2 linked regions of the Homo sapiens genome follow. The protein of the gene in region 1 interacts with the protein of each later gene in a pairwise test. Each region holds a gene or a part of one and is shown on either strand. Other genes may lie near its edges.

Evidence for each region.
Region 2: the proteins of PRKCD (region 1) and IL32 interact in binary tests that used the Homo sapiens proteins (3 or more experiments, as listed by UniProt).

What each region holds. Positions count from the first base shown.
Region 1 is NC_000003.12:53,184,978-53,188,780, forward strand, and holds part of PRKCD (protein kinase C delta type), read left to right. Parts: intron 1-626; coding exon 627-723; intron 724-949; coding exon 950-1,050; intron 1,051-1,189; coding exon 1,190-1,363; intron 1,364-1,626; coding exon 1,627-1,718; intron 1,719-2,362; coding exon 2,363-2,425; intron 2,426-3,742; coding exon 3,743-3,803.
Region 2 is NC_000016.10:3,063,841-3,068,439, reverse strand, and holds the start of IL32 (interleukin-32), read right to left. Parts: upstream 2,801-4,599; 5' UTR 2,753-2,800; exon of another isoform or gene 2,657-2,752; 5' UTR 2,629-2,656; coding exon 2,614-2,628; intron 1,064-2,613; coding exon 1,025-1,063; coding exon of another isoform or gene 887-1,024; coding exon 827-886; intron 457-826; coding exon 430-456; intron 261-429; coding exon 201-260; intron 1-200.

The sequences.
Region 1 (3,803 bases):
GGCAGGTGCCATGGGGACCCTGGACACAGGGCAGTGGGGTCAGGGACAGTCAAGGCTTACAGCCACTGCTGGGGAGCCACAGACAGCCAGGATATATTTAGACCCAGGACTCTACTTCGGGAAGATGCAACTCAAGAATTTAGGCAGCAGAGGGAGGGGGGCTTTTTTTCATAAGAAATTCATTATTCAGGCAGTTCTTTACTTGAGGGTGAACCTGGGGACCACAGGAGTGGGTGTTGGAACACTTTGAACTAAGACTTTGGGTGTGGACGTTTGTATGTGGGGGGGGCTTGAGGGATGCCACAAAACCTAAAGGTAAAATTTTAGAATCAATCAGAAATGAAGCTAAATAGTCAAATAAAATCTATCGAGTGAGTGGTTGGGAAGGTAGGGTTCCGTTTACAAAACTTCTGTTTGTAATCAGAGCCTTTCAGACCACCAAGGCTTCTCTGGGCTCCTGGAAGAGTGCGTGTGTGTACACGCAGCCCGAGTAGGGGGCCTGGGCTGTGCCCCTGTTGTCTCCTCTTGGTGTTAAGGGTGGAGTTATACCTGGGAGTCTTCCTTCTGGGCTGGGAGTTCTGATAATGGTCTGACCATCTGGCCCCCCACCTCTGCTCCCTCCCCAGAGAGCCTCCCGGAGATCAGACTCAGCCTCCTCAGAGCCTGTTGGGATATATCAGGGTTTCGAGAAGAAGACCGGAGTTGCTGGGGAGGACATGCAAGGTGAAGCTGGGTCCATTGCCCCATTACGGTTTTTATTCCCCCTGAGGCCAAAGAAAGGGGACTGTCCTCCCTTCCATTGTCAAGTGAGACATGGAAGGAACCACCGGTCCTGGGGAGCGAGCCCCTTCCTCTCTGAGGCCCCTTCCCCCAGCCTACCCCAGGCCCCGGGGGAGGGGAGTTGTGTAGACTGAGACCCCGATCTGAGGAGGTGCCATCTCTCGGGCAGACAACAGTGGGACCTACGGCAAGATCTGGGAGGGCAGCAGCAAGTGCAACATCAACAACTTCATCTTCCACAAGGTCCTGGGCAAAGGCAGCTTCGGGAAGGTGAGGGCTGTGAGCCGGGCACCTGCTTCCCACCCCACCCTGGCTTCTTCCCGCTTAGGTGGCTGAGGTGGGAGTCTGTGAATCGGGCTGTGGCCCCTGCCCCGTCCTCACCTGCTCAGCACCCGTGTCTCCCCATCAGGTGCTGCTTGGAGAGCTGAAGGGCAGAGGAGAGTACTTTGCCATCAAGGCCCTCAAGAAGGATGTGGTCCTGATCGACGACGACGTGGAGTGCACCATGGTTGAGAAGCGGGTGCTGACACTTGCCGCAGAGAATCCCTTTCTCACCCACCTCATCTGCACCTTCCAGACCAAGGTGCCCGGGCCTCCTGCCGTCACCACCCCATGCCACAGCCATGTCCCACAGCTCCTCAGCCCCCCTCAGTCAGGGCTGTGTCTCCCCTTCAGGCCACTTAAGGCAGGGCCATGCTTTCCCCCCTCATGCCTCCCAGGGCAGAGTCGTCCACCTCAGCCAGGGCCTGTCCCTGCTGTTTCCTGTTGGGGCTTGGCCCCAGTGGCCCTCAGTGAGGGAGCCTCCTGCCTATTCCTCACCCCTGCTCACCACCCTTCCCACCCCAGGACCACCTGTTCTTTGTGATGGAGTTCCTCAACGGGGGGGACCTGATGTACCACATCCAGGACAAAGGCCGCTTTGAACTCTACCGTGCCACGTACGTAAGGGCCATGGTGGGGAAGGGCCCAGTGTGGAGGAAGGGCTACTGGCTCAGAGCCCACTTCCAGTCTGCCCTCCATGCCTTCTTCCCTCTCCCTAGAAAAGCCAGCCTGGGCTAGAGCGGCAACTGGGGAGATGTGGGGGTAGCCTGGGTCGGCACCACACAGGAAGCCATGGGTGGCAAGTGAACTGCGGCTGGGTGCGCAGCGCAAATACTCTGGGTCCTGGCCGCTCCGTGGGCCACAGCCAGGGCAGCCTTGCAAATGGTGGTCCTGCATGACACAGGACACAGGACCCTGGTGCGTGGCCCCCAGACCTGCTTCTCCCCATTCACATGCCCCTTACCCCAAACTAACCGTGTATGTGTGTGTGTGTGTGTGCATGCATGCAAACACATATGTACATGCATGTAAATGCATACACTCTTAGAGAATTGGCTCACTGAGAGCTTTCCCTTCAGAACTTTCTGCCTGGGCTGCCAGCCCCCACTTGCCTGATACAAGATGTACTTGATCATGCTCAGGTGGTCCATGGAGTTATTTGCAGCATTTCTTGCTCCTGGAAGTGGGGTTGAGGGCCCGAGGAGAAGCAGAGGCTGCTCGGCAGAGATCCCGGAACACTTTATCCCTCTCTCTTGCCCAGGTTTTATGCCGCTGAGATAATGTGTGGACTGCAGTTTCTACACAGCAAGGGCATCATTTACAGGTGCGGGGGTGAGGGCAGCGGGGGCTCTTGGGAGGGGAGGCTCCAGCCCCATCATATCTTCTGAAATGCTCCAAGCAGGATCCCCCCAACTCCAGTTCCTTCTCTGCTGGAAATCAATCTTTAGCTGGGTATTTGCCTATGCCTCCCACCCTGGTGTTAGCATTCCTGTGGCCACCATTTGAGGCTGGCTCAGCTTCAGGAACTAGGAACTCACTGCTCATATTTGACACCATCGCCCCACCCATCCTTGGAGCCGTCAGTCTCGCTCTGAAGCCCCATCGAGTCATCTAAGCTTCTGCCAGAAGGGACTCCTTCCATAAAGTCTCATCTAATAAGTTATGATTCCATCCTATGGTGGGAACTGTACACCCACCAAAAAGGCTGAGGTCAGGCTCTGTATACTGATGTGGGATAATGCCAAGATATGTTGTTAAGTGGAAAAACAACCTGTGGGAAAGTGTATATCGAATATTAGCATTCAGCCTTTAAAACGTGGGAGGGAGACTGAGCGCGATGGCTCACGCCTGTAATCCCAGCACTTTGGGAGGCCAAGGTGGGCAGATCACCCGAGGTCAGGAGTTCGAGACCAGCCTGACCAACATGGTGAAACCCTGTCTCTACTAAAAAATACAAAAGTTAGCTGGGCATGGTGGTGGATGCCTGTAATCTCAGCTACTCAGGAGGCTGAGGCAGGAGAATTGCTTGAACCCGGGAGGCGGAGGTTGCAGTGAGCTGAGATCATGCCACTGCACTCCAGCCTGTGTGACAGAATGAGACTGTGTCTCAAAAAAAAAAAAAAAAAAAAAAAAAAAGGTGGGAGCGAGCTGCATGCTGCCATATGCTTGTCCACGCCTAGAATTGCTCTAAGGAGAGCCTCATGATTGAGCTCAGTGGAAGGTAGACTTTGTACTGTTTGCCATTTCTAGTTCCCATATGCATTAAGTATATACTCAAATGACTAATTACTAAATATAGACATGGTCTCTGCCTGTGGGAAGTAGACAAACCTGAACCTGGGGGTCACTTCTGCTGCTGACTGCTAGGGGACCCTGGGCGAGTGACATCACCTGTTTGAGCCCCATTTGGGCTTCAGGAAGTAGGGCAGTGTATGCCCAGCGTTTAGCACACAGTAGGGGACTTGCAAGAAGCACCTGTTTTTAGGATCTCTTTCTCCTTCTGCTTCCTTTTCTGTTTCTCATTCCCTTGTACCCTTGGGGACAGTCCTGGACTAATACGGCTGAAAATTAGGACATGGGGGGCAGGGTTGGAAGGAGAAGAAATGTCCCCTGCTGACTCTTACCTGTCCCCTGTCCTTAGGGACCTCAAACTGGACAATGTGCTGCTGGACCGGGATGGCCACATCAAGATTGCCGACTTT
Region 2 (4,599 bases), on another chromosome or scaffold:
CAACTACTTGTCAGGCTGAGGCAGGAGAATCACTTAAACCCGAGATTTGGAGGTTGCAGTGAGCCAAGATCATGCCACTGCACTCCAGCCTGGGCGACAGAGCGAGACTCTGTCTCAAATAAACAAAAAGAAAGAAAGAAAGAAAAGACAGGGCAGAGGTGAAGGAAGGCAAGGTGCCCAGATGGGTGTGTCATACTCACTGGGTGCTGCTCCTCATAATAAGCCGCCACTGTCTCCAGGTAGCCCTCTTTGAAGTCGTCCTGGGGAGAGGAGGGCACAGGGGGTTCATGCTGCTCCTGCCTGCCCCCTTCCCACTGTGGCCCCCACTGGTCCAGGTGATTCCCAAGGGGACCCGGGGCCCAGACCCAGTGTCCTGTGGAGCCTAAGACCCAGGGACTAAGCTTGGTGGAGGGGGAGGCCACGGCTCACCTCCAGCTCTGCCAGGCTCGACATCACCTGTTAGGAACAAAGCACTCGGTTCCAGGCCCAAGCCTCCTCTGCACCCCACATCAGTCAGTCCTCAAGCCCAGTGAGTCCTCAGCTCCCACACACCCCGAACTGGGCCCAGCCAGGGGCCCGGGCCACGTCTGGCACCCCTGTTGTTTCCTCAAGGAGCCCTGGGGCTTGGATGCCTCCCTCAGTCTCCCCGGGCGTCCAGATCCCCCACCCGCCCACTCACTGCCACCCAGGTGCAAGCATTTGCCCACGGTAAGGGGTGAGGGAGCCTGTGGGTCCCTCTTCATCCTTCTCACCCTGAGCCCCACACAGGGTGGAGTGCCTGGGGGCGGGGACATGTGACCTGGTGCCTGAGGGGAAATCCACCCACCTGTCCACGTCCTGATTCTGCATTTTGCATTTTATCATAAAATCTTTCTATGGCCTGGTGCTGTGAAGAGAGGCAGAGTTGGCACCAAAGGGCCGGATCCTTGTCCCTCCAGGGTCCCAGGTGTCCCACAGTGTCCTCAGTGTCACACGCTGAGACCCAGGCCCCCAACCCCTGAGCAGAAGTAGGGAGGAGCATTACCATTCGGGCCTTCAGCTTCTTCATGTCATCAGAGAGGACCTGCGGAAATAACGGTGACACTCAGTCTCCATGTGTCACCTTAACCTTTCCTCCAGGATAATTTATACACACACACACACACACACACACACACACACACACACAGAGACACATGGCAGAGGTACAGGATAAGAGGAGACAGCAGTCCCAGGAGCCCCTCACAGCCTGGAAAGACCGGCCAGGGCTGTCCTCGAAACGACTCAGAAAGCGCTTCTCTCAGGAGCCGGCTCAGCTGGGCAGGCCCAAGAGCAGGGCCAGCATGGGCCTAGGTGACCCCTCCTCACAAGAGCAGGGCCTGCGTGGGCCTAGGTGACCCCTCCTCACAAGAGCAGGGCCTGCGTGGGCCTAGGTGACCCCTCCTCACAAGAGCAGGGCCTGCGTGGGCCTAGGTGACCCCTCCTCACAAGAGCAGGGCCTGCGTGGGCCTAGGTGACCCCTCCTCACAAGAGCAGGGCCTGCGTGGGCCGGGGTGTCCTCCCTGCACACACACACCCCCCCATGTACACACACGGGAGGATGGACACTGTCCTGGAGCAGGCTGGCTCAGCTGGGTTTCCCACAACCACTATGGTCCCAGGTGAGAGTTGGCCAAGGAAAAAATGTTTAGGGACATGACAATTGAGAAGGTAACAGCAGCCATTCCTCTCTGATGAGCTGATTAATATTTGGGGTGCCAGGTAGGTCCACCCTACAACCTGCCACTCTTCCCGACTGCCAACATGCAGACCCACAGGTCCCGGGCCATTCCTGCCTGCAGACACGTGGCTGCATCCACAGAGGCCAGAGGCACCCCACAGAATCCCCGCTGAGCCCCCACGTCAAGGGCCTAGTCTCGGGGGTGACATGCCTGGTTTCCCCCACTATAGAGTGGTGACAGTCACCCACAGAGTGCGCAGGGCCTGGGGACATATTCTGGGCAGGGCAGCTGTCTGCACACTTTCAGGCAGCGATGGTCCCATCCCGCTAGCCTGATTTCCCAGGAACCAGGGTGAAAGCAGCACCGTGCCGACATGCGGGAGCCATGTGTCCTCCGGGTCACTGTCCTGAACCTGAGCCAGGCCACATCATGGAAACCCCTATTGTCACAGGCCGAAGAGCTCCCTGGAGGGTGTGGTGGGCCTAGCATTTGCGGTGGGGCAGTGGTAGAGGATGGGAGGTCGGAGGGAACCCAGGAAAGGAGGAAGAGACACCAGGACCCACACAGGCCTTGCTCTTGGGCCCACCCAGCTGAGCCGGCCTCTGAGAGAAGCATTCTCCGAGTCGTTTCCAGCAGAGCCCTGCCCCACCCCTGCCCCGGGCTTTCCGGGCTGTGAAGGGCTCCTGGGACAGGTGCTCCCTCTCATCCACACCCCTGCCGTTCTCCAGCGCCCCCGACACATATGACCTCCAGCGCCTCCACTGACACTCTCACCCCATCACTATCCTCCTGCCGCTGGGTGCCCCTGACTGAGCCCTGACACACAGGCACCTCGGGAAATACTGAGGGCACCCGCACCCTTACGGTCTGTTTTCAGACATGCCCACAAAAGCACACGCAGCCTCTCACTCACCTTCGGGAAGCACATGGCGGCCAAAAGTTCAAGGAGCCAAGGCCTGCTGGCGAGGAACAGGTGTGAGGAAAAGAAAGTGTCTCAGAGAAGCACCCTCCTCCCCAGAGGGTCCTCACCTTCGGGGACCCCAACTCCCCACCTGAGATGACCCAGCTCCACTGAGACAGTCACCTTCTGCACGCAGTCTTCCTGGCACAAATACTCAGCTGGTTTTATGGGGAAAGTGGGGGGTAGTGGGCGGAGCCTCTCTCAGGGCAGGAGGCCTTGCTGAGTGCGTGAAAAACAGACAGAGACAGAGACAGAGACAGAGACAGACAGAGATGGAGACTTACCCGAGAGAGACAGAGGTCTGGGGTCCCTGGGAGGAATGAGGGTCCGTCCCTGGCTGGGCCCCTGCTCCCTCTGAGCTGGGGTGGGAGTCTCTGAGCCCAGGAATGGGCTGCTTTCCCCACCCCACCAGCCTGAGAGTGGGGAGGGGCAGAGGGAAAGTCCAGACTCGGGACAGCTGGCTGGGGAAACTCCCTGAGTACAGGAAGGTGACGTCAGCCAAGTGGGATCCAAGGACAAAGGAATTTGGACCCTGTCCTTGCATGAGGTGTGCCCCGGCTCCAGAGGCCAGAGAAACTTCTGGATCAGAAGGAGGCAGGAACTGCCGGACCTAAGAGGGGCGCCGTGAGGGCAGGGGCCTGTGCACGTTGGAGGGGTGGCTAGTGGTGATGTAGATCTACCTGTGGGACAAGATAGGACCCTCTGCAGGGTGGAAGGCATCCTGCCGGCTGTCTGAGCTTGGCTGACCAGGTCCTTCTGACCCTTCTGGGCCAAGGCAAGGCCATCTGGGGCCGAAGGTCACTGGTCTCAGCAATCTTGGGGCTCCCCTACGGGCTCTTCTAGCTCCACGGGTTCTGACCCTCCAGCCTGGCTGGGCCTCCCACCTCCTCCTCACGGCCCCCAGCCCCCTTCCCCCAGCTGAGCACAACCACGCCCTTGCCTTTGGGATGGTTTCCTGGGGCCAAACTAAGGAAGTACCACGACAAGGGGCCCTAAGTCGAAGACGTCTCTTCCCTCACGATCTGCAGGCTGGAGGTCCAAGGTCAATGTGGGCAGCGTGGGGTCCTTCTGAGGGCCCGGAGCTGGGATTCTGTTCAGGTTTCTCCTGCCCTTGTAGATGGCCATCTTCATCTTCATCACGTTCTGCCTGGGTGTGACTGTCCCCCTTTCCCCTTTCCAAAGGACACCAGTCATATTGAAATAGGGTCCACCCTAGGCCGGGCGCAGTGGGTCACGCCTGTAATCCCAACACTTTGGGAGGCCGAGGCGGGCAGATCACCTAAGGTCAGGAGTTCTAGACCAGCCTGGCCAACATGGTGAAACCTTGTCTCTACTAAAAATACAAAAATTAGCCTTGCGTGGTGGCCGGCACCTGTATTCCCAGCTACTCGGGAGGCTGAGGCAGGAGAATCACTTGAACCCGGGAGGCGAATGTTGCAGTGAGCTGAGATGGTGCCACTGCACTCCAGTCTGGGGGACAACAATGAAAATTCCCCTCGGAAAAAAAAAAAAAAGAAGTAGGATCCACCCCAGTGACCTCATTGTACCTTAAGTACCTCCATAAAGACCCTGTTTCCAAATAAGGGCATATTCTGAGGTCCTGGGGCTTAGGAATTCAGCATGGATGCAATGTATCCCATTATATTCTCAAAGGGGACTCGGAGAGACAGAACCTATAAAACACGCTCCATGGAGAAATCTTCCCTTGGGTGAAGTAGACAACGGTTGTCACCTGCCTGCCACTTAGGAGTCCATTCCACTGTGCGCAACCGCCTTTCCACATACAGGATGTCCAGATCTTTCCCTGAGTATCCTCTGAATTGTAGTGGGAGACAGAAGGAAGCCACTCCTGCACCAGCTAAAAGTCATGCTTTAGGCTTCAGCTCCAACCCTAGCCCCTCATGACTCTCAAAGGCCACCATCTGAAGACATCTTGGG